Linked DNA regions of Homo sapiens. The protein of the gene in region 4 interacts with the protein of the main gene of each other region in a biochemical or structural test. Each region holds a gene or a part of one and is shown on either strand. Other genes may lie near its edges.

The links.
Region 1: the proteins of ERBIN (region 4) and RCN2 interact in a test that uses a peptide from one of them, tested with the Homo sapiens proteins (one large-scale study listed by IntAct).
Region 2: the proteins of ERBIN (region 4) and TRMT13 interact in a test that uses a peptide from one of them, tested with the Homo sapiens proteins (one large-scale study listed by IntAct).
Region 3: the proteins of ERBIN (region 4) and CBY2 interact in a test that uses a peptide from one of them, tested with the Homo sapiens proteins (one large-scale study listed by IntAct).

The regions. Positions count from the first base shown.
Region 1 is NC_000015.10:76,944,376-76,949,384, reverse strand, and holds part of RCN2 (reticulocalbin-2 isoform a precursor), read right to left. Parts: intron 1,965-5,009; coding exon 1,868-1,964; intron 976-1,867; coding exon 833-975; intron 316-832; coding exon 163-315; 3' UTR 1-162.
Region 2 is NC_000001.11:100,142,290-100,147,298, reverse strand, and holds part of TRMT13 (tRNA:m(4)X modification enzyme TRM13 homolog), read right to left. Parts: intron 4,163-5,009; coding exon 4,090-4,162; exon of another isoform or gene 4,085-4,089; intron 3,231-4,084; coding exon 3,156-3,230; intron 773-3,155; coding exon of another isoform or gene 627-772; exon of another isoform or gene 1-626. UniProt on the Homo sapiens protein: tRNA methylase which 2'-O-methylates cytidine(4) in tRNA(Pro) and tRNA(Gly)(GCC), and adenosine(4) in tRNA(His).
Region 3 is NC_000013.11:45,700,169-45,705,755, reverse strand, and holds the start of CBY2 (protein chibby homolog 2), read right to left. Parts: upstream 3,437-5,587; 5' UTR 3,366-3,436; coding exon 3,291-3,365; exon of another isoform or gene 3,241-3,290; intron 2,982-3,240; coding exon 2,901-2,981; intron 2,246-2,900; coding exon of another isoform or gene 2,165-2,245; intron 1-2,164.
Region 4 is NC_000005.10:66,019,683-66,024,691, forward strand, and holds part of ERBIN (erbin), read left to right. Parts: intron 1-1,639; coding exon 1,640-1,703; intron 1,704-3,607; coding exon 3,608-3,682; intron 3,683-4,623; coding exon 4,624-4,768; intron 4,769-5,009. UniProt on the Homo sapiens protein: Acts as an adapter for the receptor ERBB2, in epithelia. By binding the unphosphorylated 'Tyr-1248' of receptor ERBB2, it may contribute to stabilize this unphosphorylated state.

The sequences.
Region 1 (5,009 bases), on a different chromosome or scaffold from region 4:
TTTTTTTTTCCTAAAAGACCAAAATTATAATCTACATTAAGATAATTCTGACTGTGGTTAAGACTTAAGAGTGTAAAATACAACATCAATATTTTATCACAAAAGTAAAGCTGGTAACAAATTATAAAAGGAGCCAGTACTCTACTGAGACAGGCTCAGAGATTAAAGCTCATCATGATAGAAATAGTCATCATGGAGCTGTCTGCCATAATCTGTGGCTTCACTGGTGAGAAACAAGTCCGGGTTTTCCAGAATCTCTTCTTCAGAGAGCTTTTTGTCACCATTCAAATCCATTTCATCAATTAGATGAAGCGCCTTCAAAATAAAACAAAAAAGTGTCAAGTGTAATAAGTATTTTCAGCAAGATGTTCACAATTTAATGTGATTTGACTTGTCAAAATCATCCAGGTGTACAAGTACTCATTATTGTTTAAGTATCTAAAAATGTTACACGTTGTAACCAGGTCCGTCTACTGCTTTTCCCATTATCTCCTTTCTTCATTTCTGCTGGGTTCTGTCTCTCTCCACTCAAATCCAATCCAGGATATATCAAGGCAATGAAAAATTATTATAACCTGTTTTGAGTCCCTGTAGGTAAATACAAACTATTATTCTATTCACTGTACTCTCAAATTAATACATGACACAATCTTAACTTCCTCGTCTCCCTGACAATCTAAACAGTTCGTAAATTCAAAACATAGTAATGCATCAATCCCAAATAACTCCATTACTTCTTTCTTTGGCTTAAGATTTTGAACTTCTTTTCCTATCAACAGCACCAAATTCGGGGGGAGGGGGTGGAGAGAAACAGTTGTTCTGTAACACTTACCTCCTCTTGTGCAATGCCCTGATTATTAGGTACTACCCAAGGTAACAGCTCTTGGGGATCAAGCCTGCCATCGTTATCTTTGTCATAATCATTCACGAATCTGTCTTTCTCAACAAGTATCCATTCTGGATCTTCATTTGCAGCTTAATATAAAAAAACACAAATATACATACACAAGAATATCACATGTATCCAATAAGAAGTTTGGTATATCCCTAGAATAAAGGAAGTGAATTTAAAGTTTACTAAAGAAAGCCCAATAAAACAGAACTACTTAACTGAAAAGTCCTGACATAAGAACAAATATATAGTCATTTTCAAAAGTGACACGAGTCTAAACAACCCAGTTTTAAAATCATTGGATGTTTTCACAAACTAGTAATTTTGTTAACTGCTATTTGTTCCGATATCTAGTTTTCCCAGATGTGAGGTGGGTAATGTTTTACTGTATATCATGTTTCTATACAAAGTTTCTTACATGTTTTCACAAAGTAATGCCATGTGTAATTTTAAAGTGACAATCAGAATAAGTAAAACTGGTGACCAATTTAAAAATGGCATTGTTTGGTGTCTTTAAGCAACAATTCTGAAAAAACAGCTGCTTATATAAAAGCAAACTCTTAATTTCAAACACTTATTCACCTTCTACTAAGCTTCTGATACTGTGTTTACACCAGTATTTGTAGTGTTTTATGTTTCTATCTCTTTTAAGATCCACCTGCAACAGCACAGGATTTTGTTTAAAAATATCTACCTTACTTCCTTCCCCATTTAAACTGATAATAAAATTAGATTTGTTTGAAAAGAAAGAAAAATGTTTGACTCTAGACACGGAAGTAAAAGTAAGCAAGACAGCGTTCTCAGATAAGCTATAAATCCATTTGTTGAACTTGTATTACAGTTAACGAAACAAGTAGGATCAGACACAGATCCTCATTACATTTCCTGTTGAAGAGAGCTTTCAATGAGCAAGGCTGTCTTTCAATGTCTTTCTTCAATTCCTTTTCTCTTTTCACATTCTCCCAGGTGACTTACTTGGATCCCACCTGTAATCACCAAGAAATTCTTCCAAACTAACAAATCCATCACCATTTTTGTCATGTTCTTCTAAAGCTTCTTGAATGACAAATTCCTATTCCACGTTCATTAAAAAAGAAAAAAAAAAGTTACAAAATGTTCAGTCCCACTGCCATCCGATTCAATTCTACTACAGAACTTCTTTAGAAATAAATGATAATTTTTGGAGCTCTAGTGGTGCAATCAGCTAGTAAGGTACTTATACAGGAAAAATCACTTTGGTTGTCCATATCTTCAAGACAATCCTTCTAAACACTGGAATTTAGAAGCAAGAATAAAACCTGAAGTACTATGTAGCTTTAAATTCAACATCCTTAAGCTTCTGATATTGTGAAGAACTCCACTTTCACTCTCATAAACAACCTCAGCGTTACTCTCATGCTATTTTCCGCACATCTCTCCCTCTCAAGAAAAGCATCTTATACTACCTTTGTCTTTAACTTCATTTGCCCTCCAATCCATGAACAACCCTAAAAGAGCCCTTACCTTAGAACTGCTGTTCTGCCTCCAGATCTAAAATGTACCAGCCCGCCATTATACCTCAATCTCCTTGCTTCCCCTTCAGCAAACCTAGCCCTATCCATCCCAAACTGCCCCCAAATCTGTTCCTCCCTCTTATCAAAGCTTCTTATCAAACAACCAATCCTTTTCCCTAAAGATGACCTGTTCAATGGCCAGCTGTTTCAGTACTTTCCTCAATATCTTCCTATCTCCTTTTTTTTTTCAGATGGGGTCTTGCTCTGTAGCCCAGGCTAGAGTACAATGGTATGATCTCAGCACACTACAACCTCTGCTTCCCGGGTTCAAGCAAATCTCCTGCCTCAGCCTCCAAAGCAGCTGGGACTACAGGCGTATGCCACCACACCCAGCTAACTTTTATATTTTTAGTAGAGACAGTGTTTTGCCATGTTGGCAAGGCTGATCTCAAACTCCTAACCTCGGATGATCTGCCAGCCTCAGCCTCCCAAAGTGCTGGGATTACAGGCGTAAGCCACTCCGCCTAGCCCTCCCCCTTCTTTTTTTTTTTAACATAGGATCTCATTCTGTCACCCAGGCTAGAGAGCAGTGGCACAATAATAGTGGCATCATAGGCTCCAACTACTGGACTCAAGTGATCCTCTCACCTCAGTCTCCCAAGTAGCTAGGACCACAGGTGCATGCCACCACACCTGGCTAACTTTTTTGTAGAGACAAGGTCTGCTATGTTGTCCAGGCTGGTCTTGAACTCCTAGCCTCAAGCTGTCCTCCTGCCTTGGCCTCCCAAAGTGCTGGGATTACAGGTGTGAGCCACCATGCCTGGCCCATCTCTGACTCTTGCCTTCCCTTAACACTTATTTAGTAAGTCAACATTCCTGCATATGCTTTCTTCAAAATGTTGCTCAAATCTATTTCATTCAATTGCCAGATAGAACTCTGGGCCGTATCACATTATGCCTAAATTATTTCATTGCTTTTACTGGTAATTCCCCTCTTTAGTCTTCAATTGTTCCTTATTCTCCAGAGAATCAAGATCTAGCATCCTTTGCCTGTCATTCTTGGGCTCAATTAGCTTTTCCCAACTTAATTTTGGTACTTAAATTACACCCAGCACTGTTCTTAAACTGGGTCATGTATTCTGTGCCAATGAGAAATTAGAAGCTTCACAATGGCAAGAGAAGTGGTATTAATGACAGTGTCTTACCACTGAGCTATGGAGAAAAATGTATCTGCAGCCTTGTTATGCAAGGCAGCAGGGTCTACCATGACACATTAAACAAAAAGATATATCTTCCTTCTTTGAAATATCCAGGGAACCAAGCCACGTAGCTGGAGGCTGATGTCATGCAACAGACTTCAATATAAATGTTTAGTCTCTTTTTTAAAAAGCTATTTGTTACATTAGTCTTTATTTCCCAGTGTGATGGTTTATGCTTTCAAGCTTGGCCAAGTCATAATAGGGACTCAATTTATGTTTGTTGAGTTAAACTTACAATTCAACAAAAGTTTTGAAAAACTGGTACTTATTTTAAATATTAAAGGGATGAGAGGACTCATTATACTTAAAATTGCAAAAACATTACTAGTTAACTAGCAGCTGCACCCCTACCAACCCTATGAAGAATCCAAACATGATGTTTTTCCAGACCAAAAGCTTTCATAAGTGATGTTGTAAATTAAACAGAAATCCTAATATTACTAACATTGAAAAACCAAAAAAAATCTGAAAGCTACAAAAGGATAAGGAAGGCACTGAAGGTAACACAGTTATGAGAGAAAATAGCCTGAGGAAGCCTGCTGTTCATACATAGTACAGAGATTTAAAAATTCAGTCTTTCACCTTCTCCCTCCCAATAAGCAACTTCGTCACCACAAGAAAGCCTCCTTACCAAGCCTAATTTTAAGTGGGGAGAATGAGCATCATTTTAAATCTGTGTATCTCTTAAAATTCTGGTTATACAATTCATTTTAACAACTTAATGAACAGGTTTTAAAGTTTTGGTTACTTGGAAATGTAAATTCATACAACCACTATGGAGAACAGTTTGGAGGTTCCTCAAAAAACTAAAAATAGAGCTACCATATGATCCAGCAATCCCACTGCTGGGTATATACCCAAAAGAAAGGAAACCACTATGTCAAAGAAATATCTGCACTCCCATGTTTGTTGTAGCACTGTTCACAAAAGCCAAGATTTGGAAGCAACCCAAGCGTACATCAACAGATGAATGGATAAAGAAAATGTACATATACACAATGGAGTACTATTCAGTCATAAAAAAGAAAGAGATCCTGCAACAACATGTTGATCCACACAACAGCATGGATGAACTGGAGATCATATTAAGTGAAATAAGTCAGGCACAGAAAGACAAACATCCCATGTTCTCACTCATTTGTGGGATCTAAAAATCAAAACAATTGAACTCATGGACATAGACGGTAGAAGATGGTTACCAGAGACTGGGAAGTGTTGGGGGAGGGGGCGCTGAGAACAGTTAATGAGTACAAAAAAAACAGTAAGAATGAATAAGATCTATTATTTGACAGCATAACAGGGTTGACTATAGTCAGTAGTAACTAATTATACATTTTAAAATAACTAAAAGAGTGTTCACGGGAT
Region 2 (5,009 bases), on a different chromosome or scaffold from region 4:
ATGTGCAAAGCACTGAGGATACAATTATTAATATACACAAACTTAAGAGGCAGATGTACTCCACATTACAATGAAAATATTTTAGTATATTTTAAAACTAAATAAATGGATTTTTGATGACTATGGCTATTTCCCATCGAAAACTCCTACACTGTTGACAATACTGGAAAGACCCAAAATGTAGGACCCATATCTTCTTAATCATTAGATTGTCATGTTGTGTCTGTTCAATCAAAAACATATACATATTTTAAAATTTTATTACCCTAAGATATCACAAATGACTATTAAATGATCTGATATTTCACTAGTAAATTTAATTCAATATATGAATTTAAGTCAACAAACATTAGAAACCCATTATTTGCAGAAAGTGATAGCTAATCTATTATTTCATAAACTATTATTTTCTGACAAAATACATTTAGTCATTGTTTTATTCATATTTGACTTAAGTAAGTGATTTTCAGAAATGTGAATAACCAGATAAATTATTAAAAGAATTAAGTTATTTCAGGCCAGGCGCAGTAGCTCACGCCGGCTGAGGTGGGCAGATCACGAGGTCAGGAGATGGAGACCTTCCTGGCTAACACGGTGAAATCCCGTCTCTACTAAAAATACAAAAATTAGCCGGGCGTGGTGGCACGAGTCTGTAGTCCCAGCAATTCGGGAGGCTGAGGCAGGAGAATCGCTTGAAGCCGGGAGGCGGAGGTTGCAGTGAGCCGAGATTGCGCCACTGCACTCCAGTCTGGGCGACAGAGCGAGACTCCGTCTCGAAGAAAAAAAAAAAAGAATTAAGTTATTTCAGAATTAGAAGGAGCTTTAGCAATTTATCTCAATTCATCTTTTATAAAGAACTTAAAAGACAAAGCCACATATGCAGAAAGGGACAAGGAAACACAGCAAATTGGTAGCCAAGATTATTCATTCATTCAAATATTCACTGTGTTCCTGTTATATAGCAAGCATCGTACTAAGTATATACCATATACTCAAAAAATTCAGAGCATGGTGGAAGAATTAGATATATAAACAGATAATTAAAATACCACAAGGTAAAAATATGCAGAGGGTATTATGATAACACCAAGGAGGCATATCTTATTTAAGGGAGCTCCCTGAGAGTGGTGACAACTGAGGTGAAGGATGAGTAAAAATTGACCAGTTGTTTTGTTTGGGTGAGTAGGTGAATGGGGGTGAAATTCCAGATATAGTAGAAATAGTACAGTCTATGGAAAAGCACACAGGGTTTGATGTTGCTGAACAGCAAAGTAGGAGACAGGGAATGTAAAGAGAGGAAGGCTGAAGCCAGATTGAGACTAAAACGTTATGTCAAAGAGTTTGGACTATATCAGGAAGTACCGAAGAGTTTAAAGGGAAAGACACATTAGTTGTGTAGCAGATGGGTCTGAGATTGATTGACCGATTGAGATAGGGTCTTGCTCTGTCACCCAGGCTGCAGTGCAGTGGTGCTATCCCAGTTGACTGCAGACTCAGACTCTTAGGCTCAAGTGATCCTCCCACCTCAGCCTCCTGAATAGCTGGGACTACATGCACAAGCTATCGTGCCCAACAAATTTCTGTAGAGATGGGGTCTTCCTATGTGCCCAAGCTAATCCTGAACTCCTAGCCTCAAGCAATCATCTCACCTCAGCCTCCAGTGTTGGGTTTCCAGGCATAAGCCACTGTGCCTGGCCTGAATATTAGTATTTTAAGGACAGAAGTGGAAGGAGACTGTGAAATAAACAGAAGAATGGCATAGATGTAGGGGAAGAACCAGGAAATAAGAGTATCGCAAAAGAGAAGAAAATGGAATTTCAAAAAGGGTAAGCAACTGCAGCAGAGACAAAAGGAGGATTCAGATACAGTGAATCAAGGGAAAAAATTATGTGGAACATGAGAAATGGCCACTGTAGGTCAAAAGAGTGTACTCCCTCCTACCCCCGGGATGGAACTGGTTTACTTTAGAAGACTTTTATGAGGCTTAAATGAGATAAGGTATGCAAAAGTACAGTCATGCATTGCTTAACTATTGGTGTATGTTTTGGGAAATGCATTAGGCGATTTCATCATTGTAGGAACATCAGAGTGTACTACACAAACCTAGATGGTGTAGTGTAGCCTACTACACACCTAGGGTGTATGGCACAGCCTATTGCTCCTAAGCTACAAACCTGTACAGCATGTTACTGAATACTGTAGGCAACTGTAACACAATGGTATTTGTGTATCTAAATACAAAAAAGGTACAGTAAAAATATGGTATAATTTTATAGGACCACTGTCATATATGAGTCCATTGTTGACCAAATCATCGTTATGTTGTACATGACTATAGTCTTAAAAACTATGAAGGCCAACACAAATATATAGTACTCAATGCCATTTCCAGCCAATATGAATAATATCTATGGATGCTCCAAGTAATCCATATGGGTAGATGATGAAACTAGCAAAAGTTAGGAAGATGATGTAACAATAATTAACATTTATTGAGCACTATTATGTGCCAGACACTTTACATGCAACCCGGTAAATTATTAATATATTAGTATCTCTGTTTTATAGATGAGGTAACCAAAGCTCAGAAAGGTTAAGTAATTTGACAAGGTTACACAACAAAGCTGAAGGCTAGACTATCTGATTCTAAAGCACATGCTGTTTCCACTTTACCATGCTAGATCTGATGGATCAAAGTGCTAAGACAAGACATCTTAGATTTTTTTTTTTTGTCTAACATTTATTTTTTTCTTTTTCCCCAGAATCCTGAAACACAATAGTCTTTTAGTAGAAGAGGTTTCTGAGTTCTTTCTAAGCAACTACTCTAAAAAATCAGTAGCTTCTAGGTGGAATCATACAGTTTCCATAAATGGTCTTATTTTCCTTTTCTGGTTGAAATTTAACCCAAAGAACTTTAAGGTCTAATGTGATGCAGTATTTACATACAAAACTCTTAATTCATCCTGCAAAATGGCCAATATGAGCAGATAAATAGGAAAGCTATGCATCTAATAAAGCACAGGGCCAGTGCTCTATAAAGATTATTGAGTTGTAAACATAAGATATCTATTCAAAAGAGACCACTGAAATGGTTGGGGCCAGGTTAGGCCAAAACTTAATGCATTAATGTAAACATTATCAGTATGTTTACGTACCTGTTGCCATACCACACAGATGCTTTCCAATTCCTACCACAGGTAGTTTTTCTTCTCTTAGCACAGGAATCTTGTCTGAAATGGAAATGAGAATTAACTGTCTAGTGAAATAAAGTACATATTAATGTGGCCTTCCAAAAGAAAGAACTAATTAGAGTCTCTGAATTTTAGCCTGAAAGAGACTCAAACAAAAATTATCACTTTATGGAACCCAACATATAACATAAGAACTTGTTTAGGGTTCATAACATCAGAAAGTTAATATATTCAGCTAAATAATTTTAAATACATTGATTTCTATACAAATGCTGGGTTGCTTTTCATGGCTGGATTAAAATTGGTGAATGGAAGAGGTTGCAAAGATATGTTTGCATTATTTTCTTTGGATAATCTGAAAAATAGAAAAGGTATAAAAAGGGCACTACAGAGGTTGATTGAGGAGTTTGTGTGTGTATGTGTCTGTGTGTGTTTTGTGTATGGAATATGAATCCCACAGTGATGACTTCTTTTGTACAATTTAAAATTCTAGGAAGTATCTTTTACACATTAGCTAGGCAGAGAAATATCTCATTTTCTTTCATGGTTTAGGTAAAGTCACGTTAACTGCAGGCAGAAGGCTAGTTTATAGTTTGAACAGACTCAAAATTAATTTAAACAGGACAAAGAAACAACAGAAGTACATATTATAAAACTTTTAAACTCTTCCCTAATATAACACTTCATTTCCACTTGATACTGAAAATTTTTAAAATTCTCAACCTTAATTCAATTTACATCTATTTAAAAACATTATATAAAACATTCTATATTAACAATGAATTGATTTGACTGTTTTCCCTGAAGCACAGTTCTGCATGATTGGATTTCTAAGCAACCTCAGAGTTTAAAACAGTTATGATTTATTTGTAGACCAATGGAAAGTTACACAACTTACTCAAACACAAGTGTTGAATATCAATTTGAAGTCTTTCAAACACTGAATTTTTCTTTCTGTGTTTTCCATCCACCTGCACAAACAGAACATTATTGTAATAATCACTTCTTACATTTAAAAAAGCTTTATGAAAATAAAAAGATTTTTATTGGTTTTCAAAATTCAGAGCAACAGAACATATTTAAAAATTAAGATTGTACATTCTTTGATGAGAACTTCAAAATATCACACTTTTTAAAAAAGATTTGAAAATGTTTATCAATTATTACATAGACATTATTTCCTTTAACCCTAAAAATTCCCAATTCACTGACAAAGGAACTGAAGTTCACAGATCTTAAGTGATTTATCTAAGATTGTCTACTAGCTCCTTTATCTTTGTCACTCCTGGTGTACTATTTTTGGTTCGCTCCTCTTCTTGCTCTCCTGAAAGATCACAACCATTCTAATCTATACCTATGTGCCCACGACCGGCTGATCTACATTTGTGGCTCAGGCCTCTCCAATGGGCATCAGACACATACTCAATTGTGAACTAGAAAGCTCTACTTCACCAGCAAACTGGACACATTCAGAACTGAACTCATTATTTCTGTCTCCAAAACCATCCTTCCTCTTGTGCCTCCTTCATTCCTTATCTCAGGAAAGAACACCACTTAGTCACCTAAGCCATAAAAATCCTACCGAGAATTACTCCTTATCTCTCATATTCAATTACTAACAAATCACCAACTCTTGTGGCTTCCAACATCTTAATATTTCTCATACTCTTGCCCTCCTCTCCATCCCAATGCAATAGCTTTAGCTCTGGCCTCTTTCTTACTTGGATTGTTGGACAAAAATTATCTTTATTATTAATCTCTCTAAGTATCAGACTCTTCTAATATAGTTTTAATGGTGCTGCTAGGATAAACTTTGAA
Region 3 (5,587 bases), on a different chromosome or scaffold from region 4:
TACTGATTTTCATATGAGATGACAAGGCTGAGTCTCATTATCATTATTTTAAATTAATTCAGCTCCCTGGTACCATGGCAAAGTCAATGGTGGTTTTAATAAATACTAACAGGTAAAAGGATAATTCACAAGGTAAATGTGATTGATGTTGACAGAATTACAACGTTAACAGCAAAGAGGATAAAGAAGATGTCATATGTAGTATGTTTGCATACTGTTTAACAGAGACTCTCCTGAAATCTTCCTGGGAATTCAAATTGGCGGGTGCTGTCAGCAGGAATTCACTGCTTCTGAGTAACAAGCACAAACAAAGGGGAAGGAGAAAAGGCAACTGGGAAGGATGAAGGAGGCACCGGAGGGTGCTATTGGAGCTCAGTCTGACCTGGTGTAGCTCTTTCATTAATGATCTAGGAGTAAACAATGCCTTAATGAAATTCACAGAGCACGTTCATTGGGGAAACGCGAAAGTCTGTGAGAACTGAATCATTACATACAAAAGGAACCAGGAGATCAGCTAGCTTGGGCTGGAAATGACACTGATGGCTTGCAAGTTAATGTGCTGGAGGGAAAGAGATCAGAAAACACAAATATTTAATGTGAGGAAGAAAAACAGGAAATCAATGAGTCCTGAAAAGACCTTAGGGTGATAACATGTAGTGATCACAGGCATTTCCAATGTAATTGAGAAGCCCAAACGCACAGCAGGACTGGCAGCTGGGAGCCAGAGGCAGTCTCTGGAGACAGAGCTGCTGCCACAAGTCCTTTCTGAAACAAATGGAAAGTGGACTCCATCCCAGAATAGAGCAGCTTTTGGCAAATACAAAATAAGAAGCCCAGAGATGAGTGGTTAAGATGCAGGGAGAAGACTCCATCTCCAAAAAGCAAGAGAAGAACCATGGAGCTAAGATGCAGCATGGCCCAGCTTACTGGCATGTGCCCTAGTATAGCGGAGAACATGGGCACTGATTTGAGTTCAAGCCCCTTCCTCGAGCTCTGCCATTACTAGTGGGGTTCCTGGGGTTGCCGGTTCCTGTACCTGTAAAATCTCTACCTCACACTTGCTTGGCCCCATGCCCGACACATGATCGCACCAACATTCAGTCAATATTTCTTCCTCTCCTTGCTTCCCAGATCAACCCTGTCCCCTAAGCCATGTGCCATCTCATTTAGGGAGGTAGAGTGAGCACACTGGTCCCTCTCGCAGGCCTGGTGGTATTTTGGTTCGGATCATCTAGTTGTAGACACCCACACCCATCCCCCAGAGTGCCAGTCTTGAGCATCCTGACAGGTGTCCAAAACCTGGTGCATGGCTTGTGCCCTCTTGGCAGGTGTACGCACGAAGCTGCATCTGCCCTTGTGAGGTACACGTGCCCAGACAGGAGATATCCTCTCATTCTTCACCCACTCTGCCCCACAAGACCCCAGCAGCAGCACCAGGTCCTCCAGCACAGGAAGCAGGCAGCCCCAAGACAAGCTTGAGCTGTCTTAAACCACCTTCTCTTCTCCTTGATCGTTGGGCTGTTTCTGGGAGCTGGGGAGGGAAAGTTGCGGTGGGTGTTGATGGAAACATCATTCCAATTTCTCTATCACATGACCACTACTCTTTCAAATCCTACCCCCTCCTTCACACCCACCCCTAGGTTGGCATCCTCTGCCTGACCAAGTTTCTTAAACACCAACTTTGCTAACATTACCGAGGGTTACTATCAGAGAACATTCAGCCATCTGAGGTACTTTCAAAGCATGTAAAGTTGAGGGGCCCCAGGATTCTGGAAGAAAAGATTGGTTTATATGGGCTATGAGGAATCACAGCAGTAACACCCACTCTTGGGGGAGTAGTGGCTAACACAACTCCCTGCGTATTTCAGGTGGAAAGAATCAGGCCCAAAAAGATTCCTACAGCTTGTTATCTTGTTGAATGATCAGGGGGAAGTTATCTTATATTCTGGCTAAGATTCATGGGCTAAAAGTAACAGAAAAGTGACTGTTCATTACAAAGTTATAAAGATAATGTGAAAATAAACATCCAGGATGTTTTCTTCTTCCATATTTTTGCCTCCCGCTGAACATACTTGCCTAGATTGTTACAATTATATATATGGAATGCCCACCAGTGGTCAATCCTCCTCCTACACATCCCTGGACAGAGCTCTCAGATAGTTACCTCTGCATTGGATTCCTCCATCCTACATTTCAACCCCTCTGGTTGCATGGCCCTGGTCTTCCAATGAGGACTTAGGTGACTCTGGAGAAAGCAAAGCCACCCCTTTGTGACATAGCAGCAGTAGAAACAATTCAATCAAGAGGACTCCACTAAGGAAACAGCTGATTGCAGGCAGGAGGAGACCTGAGACTCTATAGCCTGTGAGGACTTCACCAATTCATTGACTGAAAAAGCATCTATGCCCATGGCCCCTACATCTGTCTTTGATGCATAGCAGGGCTTAATTCTCTTGACAGCTCCAAATAACTCTGTACCCCTTTGTCCACGGATGAGGTTTTCTTCTCATGGATTCATTCTTATGCATTTGATTTCAAGTCCCAGTTCTAATTCTCCCCCAGAAATCCAGAGTGATTGCACAACACTAAGCACCAAAAGATCTCGTTTTGAGAAGGCTGGGTTACTTCAGTGTATCATAGAAACTTGGAATGTTAGGACTGGAAGTTCTTACCAGATCATCTGACCCAGCCACCTCATTCATGGGAAAAAGAACCCAAGGCCCAGAGGGGCTATGTGGCCTTCCCCAGCACACCGCCTGCTGGCACCCAACCCAAACTATAATCTGAAGCCCTGACTATCTCTGCTTATTCTACAACATCTTGCTAGAGTTTTGAAGGAGGAGATGGGGGGTTATTCTGGCTAACACTGATAGGTTACATCCTTCTGTGATTATCCCTACCTGAGGTAGAACCACACTGATTGGAATTTCTAGGCTTTCAGATCTGGTATCTCTTTTTCTTGTATAATTTGGCCTTGAGTGCTGTGGAAACGAGAAAAGAAGAAGATTACTGCTTCCCAGCTCATCCTCTGGGCCTCAATTGCTCGCCTAAAAAACACAGAACTTTCTACTCATTTATTTCTCTCTTGTCAATTATGTACAATTATGAAAGTCTGAGTCTGAAAGAACGTGTAGATGATATCTGGCATGATGGTTTATCAATCTCTGAACAGATATTAAGCTAGATATTATAGTTGATGTAAAAGGCTTTTGAAAGTTTTTGAAGTGGAGATAGCTGTACCTGCTTCCCTGTCTAAGATGATTATTTCTATCTCAAGTAAAAAGCCATACCAATGTGAGTTGCCAGGTATAGGTCCTATGCAGAAGTTGGTCACCAAAACACTCAGAACATTCCAGAGGTGACATCACAAAACAATATGGTGTTTTTCAGGGCTCATGGTTTCTCTCTGAGCATCACAGGTGGGAATGAGGCATCTGACAGGCAGGAAGAGCTTGTGGGTGCTGTGACTACTTGGCTGGTCAGGGTCAGTGTGACACACACAATAGCCCAAACATTAGCCCCCTGTTGGGTCATTCCAGCTGCCATTCGTATTCTCACTGCCAGGCTAAGTTGAGATCCCTATTCTCTCTCCAGAAGTGGCATCTTCTTGGAGTTGGGTCACTCAAGAAGAAAGAAACACAAACTGAACTCTTCCCATACCAAGGGAGAAAGTGTAGTCTGAGGTGTTTTCTGACACTACTCAATTCCTTAATTCTCTGACACCAACTGTGTGCCCTACAATTCAATTTCATCCTGATGCTATCTACCAGAGTTAGTGTTACAGAGCTGAAGCGGCTCACTACCCAATGCAATAGAAGCCAATACTAAAACACTAAGTTCTTTAAAAAAGAAAAACTTGTATATTGAAAGTCAACTCCCAAGGAGACAAGAGTCAAGCTCAAATCTGTCTCTCTGTGCTGACATTAAGGTAGTATTTTTATTAGAAAAGATTCAGGGGGTGGATTCTGAGATTAGTAGGTGATTGGTGGATGGAAATGGGAGGTCTGGAAAGTCCCAAAGAGTAAGAAACCAGTTACTTAATTTTTGAGTTTCAAGATAGCAGATAAGAAAAGAAACTTAAGCCGCTGAAACTCCCTCCACTTGTGAGATCAAGAAAAACCTGGCTGAAACTGGTTGGAACCAAGATGGCTAACTGGAGCTTGCACAGAATAAGCTTGCTGATGTCATAGCCTGAATTTCCACCACGTTTCATACTAACTCTCCCTGAATTTGCCATGCAACTCAGGAGTTAACATGAAGAAATAACTATGCATGCCCAAGGACTTTCCAGACCTCCCTTTTCCTTGCACAAATCACCTACTAATCTCAGAATCCACCCCCTGAACCTTTTCTAATAAAAGTACTGCCTTAATGCCAGCAGAAAGAGACAAATTTGAGCTTGACTCCTGTCTCCTTCAGAGGTGACTTTTAATATAAAGCTTTTCTTTTTTTCAAAAATTTGGTGTCAGTGTTGGCTTCTAGCACATTGGGCAGTGAGCCCCTTTTGCTTGTTAACAAACTAGAACCCCAGGTGAGACGAACAGCCTGTCCAAGGTACTGTTGCCCCTAGTGGTGTGCAGGCCCCCTGCACTGATCCTGAGTGGCCACCTAGACCAGGGTGTCCAGAGGCTCGACTATAGGGTTCCTTCTTCTCCACCATGGCACTTCAGGCTCCCTTGGCACTTCTCTTTTGGGAAAATAAATTGCTTCTGGATTAGACATCTTTCTGGTGAGTACCTTGTTAATATGCCCCTGTACTTTTAATTGTCTTTGAACTCATCATAACGACTGTGGGTTCAAGTCCCACCCTGTGGTTTAGGATTATGGATGAGAGTCCCAACCTTGTCTAGGATTGTGGATTTGAGTCCTACCCAAGGGGGATTCTGGTCAGTTCAGAGTCCCAAATCTGGTGTATGTTTAAGTCCCAAAGAATTAAGGCAATACTAAAAAGCTACAGCCACTAAGATAATCTAGTCTGGTTCTGATTTTTGTTGGTCTGTCTGTATTTTTGGTCTGTGTAGCAATATTTGGCTTAACAGAGGTCAAAGACTGTGATGGCTACAGCAGAAGCCTTATGAGATCTCCAGACTCCTGCACACTCAATTAGAACAAAGCAACTCCATAAACTAGAAAACCTGAAGAAAAATGGCACATGTAAAACATTTTCAGTCAATCCCTCTTTCTTCTTCTGTCCTTAAAGAGTTACCATGTAGTCTTCTAAGTTCTTTGCCTATTTTTCCTTCCTGACTACTCTGAATCTGCTGACTTTTCTGCTGGTGTTGAAATAAAACTTACTGTTCATGGTATTACTAGTTTCAGGTTACTGGCTAAAGAAAAAAAAGGAAAGAGGTCTTTTAAAATCAAAGTGCCCTGGAAACTGCTTTGCTCATCAGGGCAAATAAAATTTAGCCATGTGAACAGATTCCAGTTTTATCAGGAAAATAAGTTTGATCCAACTGTCTTGTTTATGCATATACATGCATTATGTTATATGTTGTGTCTATATGGTACCAAATTAGCTTATAAATAAAAGAGTACTGATAAATTAAATAAATAAGTCCAAATGCTTTCAAGTTCATTTGACTTT
Region 4 (5,009 bases):
TTCCTAAAATTGTTTTAAAATATAAATTTTCCAGGATATCATCTGTAATTGAATTTTTCCAATGCACACCTTTTCATTTTTGTACCCTTTTCTAAAACTGTTATGCCATTGACATTATGTGCTCAATAGTTACATGTGAATTTTCTGTTATCTTGTCATTATAACAATACTGAAGCAAGAAATGTAAGATTATGTTTTGTTCTTTCAGTCTTCTCTTCCTCCTCACAATCTTCTTCACTTTTTGCAAATCTCCACCTGGTATAGTTATTTGAACATAGGAAATTATAATCATAGCATGTGATTTTATACATCTGGAGAAAGATCGTGGAAGCAACCTTTCGCTTGTTAATGAAGGAAGCTAGAACTTAAAGGTTTTCTGGGGAAAGATATGAGTAAGGAAGCAGAATTATGGTACCTGAGAATAGGCACTTAGTAAATCTAGGTGAAAGCAGTTTTATAAAAATTGGCATTATGAGATGAATTGAAGAGTTGATGACAGAATGGCATATTTAAAATGTAAAGGGAAAATTCGCTTCTAATGTAGACCAATGACAGTTTCATTACAATGATGGTGTTTGTTTTTATATTTTTGACTAAAAAGCTGGAGAAATGTTGCAACTGAGTTTTATTTTACTTATTACTAATTTTTGTTAAAATTCCAGAGAAGATAGAAATAGTCTGTGTTTTTCGTGCCGTAATTTGAAGTGCCTGTGGATTTTAAATGATACTCATTTTCAAAGTATTAACATATTAATGTAATATACTGATATTGTGATTATAACTATATTTTGCTCTCATTTTGTCATATCCTACAAAATCCTTAATACAGAATTTCTTATCTGGGTAACTGGTTACATCTCAATGTATTAAATAATAGGTGTTGTACAAAAATAGCCACTTAAGAGTGTAAATATTTGTTTGAATTAGTTTCAAAGGGTACCTTTGTAAAAGGAGAGAGAAAAGATAGAAGTGCAACATAGTTTATTTCATTACAAACTGGTTTGTACATCTTTCAAGTTCCTGTAATTTCAGAGAAGTGTTGATGTTAAGTTGGAAGTTAAGAATAGTATATTATTGCTTTTATTTAAAATAAATGTCAACTACTAATTTGTGATTCATATAAAACTTTATTTTGAATTGTATTGTATTTAATTTGAACATGTGGGGAGTAATACAACGTACTGTTAGCATTTTGAATATTAATTTTCGGAGTTACAGTTATCTTAAAGTCTTACAAATATATGAGCAGTTTTGAAAAAGAATTTTTGTAATTATGGTAGTAATTATTATACATCTGCCAACATTTATTAGCTGACTTGTACTATATGAAAATTCATTATGTGAAAAAATAGAAACTCATTATTTGTATTCTGGCTTGTGGGTTTAAATTTATTGCAATTGCTTCTTAAAAATAGAAATGAAAAGACCAATGAGAAGGCAAAATAAGATAATAACTGATAATTATTTTATCTAGAAATCTGACTTTTAAAATTTTTTAGAAAATTAATATTTTTATTTTGTCAACATGTGAAAGCCCATAAATAATTACCTATTCCATAAGAATGTTTTAGACTGTTTTGAAAGCTTCCATGTAATTGATATTTTTCTAGTTAATTTTTCATTACTCCATTATGAACAGAACTATGAATAGACTGACCCAGCTGGAAAGACTGGATTTGGGAAGTAACGAATTCACGGAAGTGGTAAGTTCTCATCAGTCTCACTTTCCCTAAGTTCTTATATTTAATGAAGAACAAAATATGAAAATTAATGTATTTCTCTTACAAATTGGATAAAGGTTTACTTTTTTTTCTTAGTTACAAGATATGAAATTTCTTAGCCAGAACTTTCCAGACAGATAGAAAAATTAACCAGACAGATGAACTTCTGACCACAAGTGAGCATAAAATGTAAAATCAATGAGAGGTCCATGGAAGAGATACTAAACAATTTTTAGCATAGGAAGCAGAAAATTTGAGTGATTATAAGTGGGAAACATCAGTCTGGAATGCAGCAGGTAAAAGTAGTTCTGAATCAGAGAGAGCTCCATGGGGTATTGCTTGTTAACTTATTCAGTAATAAGATACTTCTCTATAATGTTACTTAATAGCTAAGGGGAAAATCATTGAGTGAAACAACTGTTATTTTTGAAGTGGTAATGAGAACCTTTTTGTTTGTGCTTTGTATGCCAAGTGCGCTATGAAGCTGACTCTAAAAGGAAAGGAGTAGTGTTTAAGTAGCTTTTGTCTTTAGTGAGTTTTCCAAAAGAACTCAGAAAATAAGCTAGATTTTTTTTTTTTTGAAGAGGAACTCATCCAGCTGAGTATCATTATTAAACTTTTAAATTAGTTTACAAGTTTGTTGTTTAAAAGTGTGGTAGCTCTCAAATGATGGTTTTAAGCCTAGGAATTTCTCAAAACTGCTTGCTATAGTATTGCCCTGTGGGTATTATATTAATATTATAAATTTCAGCTGAGGTTTGAGGAGGAACATGGTACTTTGGAGTACCTCATTCTCTAAAATACATGCTGTGCTTCCCAAATTATTTATCTGTTACGTCCTTTCTCAATATTTGTTCTGTATGAATCCGTTTCCGTATTAACTATTTCAAAAATCTCGTTCATTTTAAGAATCCAACAAGCTTTCAAAATCGTCATTAGTTTTTGTACCATTTTGGTCTTCCAACATTATACACTTTTTAAAACTTACAGTAGAATTTAACAGTAATGCACAAAAGGAAATTTCTTTTAATCCAAGTTACATCTGGGATTCTTATCTATATTTATATGTTAACAGTAAATCTGATTGGCATGCCTTTTATATATGACTGTTAACTATGGTCATTAGATGTGATAGTACTCTGTGCCATCACATGATCATTGATTGCAGATGGCTTTGTGAGGTGATAGAAATAACTTTGAAGAGGGCAGACTTGAAGGGACAATGCCCAGGAGCAAATTTTGCCTGGATATGAAGGTCTGCCACAACACTTGGATTAATTTTGATGTCCTCAACACCATATTATAAAGAATTTTCTACCATGTAATTAGAAGTTTTTACTAGAGGTTTAAATTACAGTATATTTGTATCATGTAGTTATGACTTTGTCTATTTACCTTTCCCTGATTATGGACATTTAGGATGCACGTTGTCTTTTATCTCCTTCTTAATGAATGTCACCAGGGAACATTTGTAATTTTTCTGTTTTCTAAAAGCTGTATCTTCTTACTGATAATGCATGAGTGCATATTTTTATTGTATACTTCTAAGCAGTGAGTCCTATTTTTTATTTCTTTACAAATTATATAAAAACTTGCCCCTGTTGTGTAATCCAAAGCTTAAATGTGTTTTTTGTAATCTACTGCTATGGCATGTCTCTTTGATTTCTCCATTAATAATTTTCTATAATAATTTTACTGTAGTAACTATAATGCAGTAGAAAGGCTTACATCCTGGCTCTTCTTTTTTATTTTTCCTTCTCCCTGCTCCTTTTATTTAATGATTTGAAACTAAAGGTTATTAGAAATTCCCAGGGCTTCTTTTGCCAGATAAAGACATTCATAAAAATTAATTGAATTACTGCTATCCCCTACCCTAATCCCAACAGCCTGAAGTACTTGAGCAACTAAGTGGATTGAAAGAGTTTTGGATGGATGCTAATAGACTGACTTTTATTCCAGGGGTATGTATATGAGATTTTAAATGGCATCACTTATTTCTGGCTCTCCTTTGCAGTTTTGTGAATTGTACCTTTTATAATTACTTTTAATTAATAAAAAAATTGAATTATTCTTTATTAAACAGAAGCAAATTACTTTTTTTCATGAGCACATTCTTGATTATAATCTAAGAATTCTCATAATAAACATTTGTATGTCTCCTTTTAATACTGTTGAGTGTGTCCTTTCCAATGGTATCACTTGAACTTACGTCCCAATTTGCTTTGCCCAAGGAATTGGTAAACTAGGATATTTTTCATGAACTTTCTGAATTTTTTTTTTTTTTTTTTTTGAGACAGAGTCTCGCTCTGTTGCCCAGGCTGGAGTGCAGTGGTGCGATCTCGGCTCACTGCGAGCTCCGCCTCCTGGGTTCACACCATTCTCCTGCCTCAGCCTCCTGAGTAGCTGGGACTACAGGTGACCACCACCATGCCCAGCTAATTTTTTTTTATTTTTTAGTGGAGACGGGATTTCACCGTGTTAGCCAGGATGGTCTCGATCTCCTGACCTCATTATCCGCCTGCCTCGGCCTACCAAAGTGCTGGGATTACAGGCGTGAGCCACCGCGCCCAGCCGAACTTTCTGTTTTAACAACTGACAAATTGTTTACTCCCATAAAAAAAACCACAAGAATCCCCATATATGCTATTTCCTTAGGAGGTAATGGATACCTGAATTCCCAAAGAATATGTCCTTTGTCACTTCTGCTATGCTACAATTAGTAGAACATCTTAGCTATATTACTGAATACATTTCTAATGGCATTTAAAAAACTACCTGGGAGTCTTCTTTCTTGTATTAGCATTTAATTTTGAATTAAAACTTGGTATCAAGTTTATTCCCTAAACTTTTTACAAATTACTAATGTTAATAGAGTCATTAGATTTTCTTTTTTTACTTATAGTTTATTGGTAGTTTGAAACAGCTCACATATTTGGATGTTTCTAAAAATAATATTGAAATGGTTGAAGAAGGAATTTCAACATGTGAAAACCTTCAAGACCTCCTATTATCAAGCAATTCACTTCAGCAGCTTCCTGAGACTATTGGTTTGTATTGCTTTCAAATTCATGTAATTTTTATTAAAATAAATTCGAGACTTCCACATAATCTCAAATTTCACTTGTTATGAGGTAGTTATACTTCGTTACCACAGGAACGGATTTTATTTGAATTTTTCCTGGTGTGATCAGTTGTACAGTTTGCTCCTTTGTTGACATTACTGTTTTTTATTTACTCTAAGGTAATCTCATTTTTATTTCTAATATATTTAAATTCTTTAAAATAAGT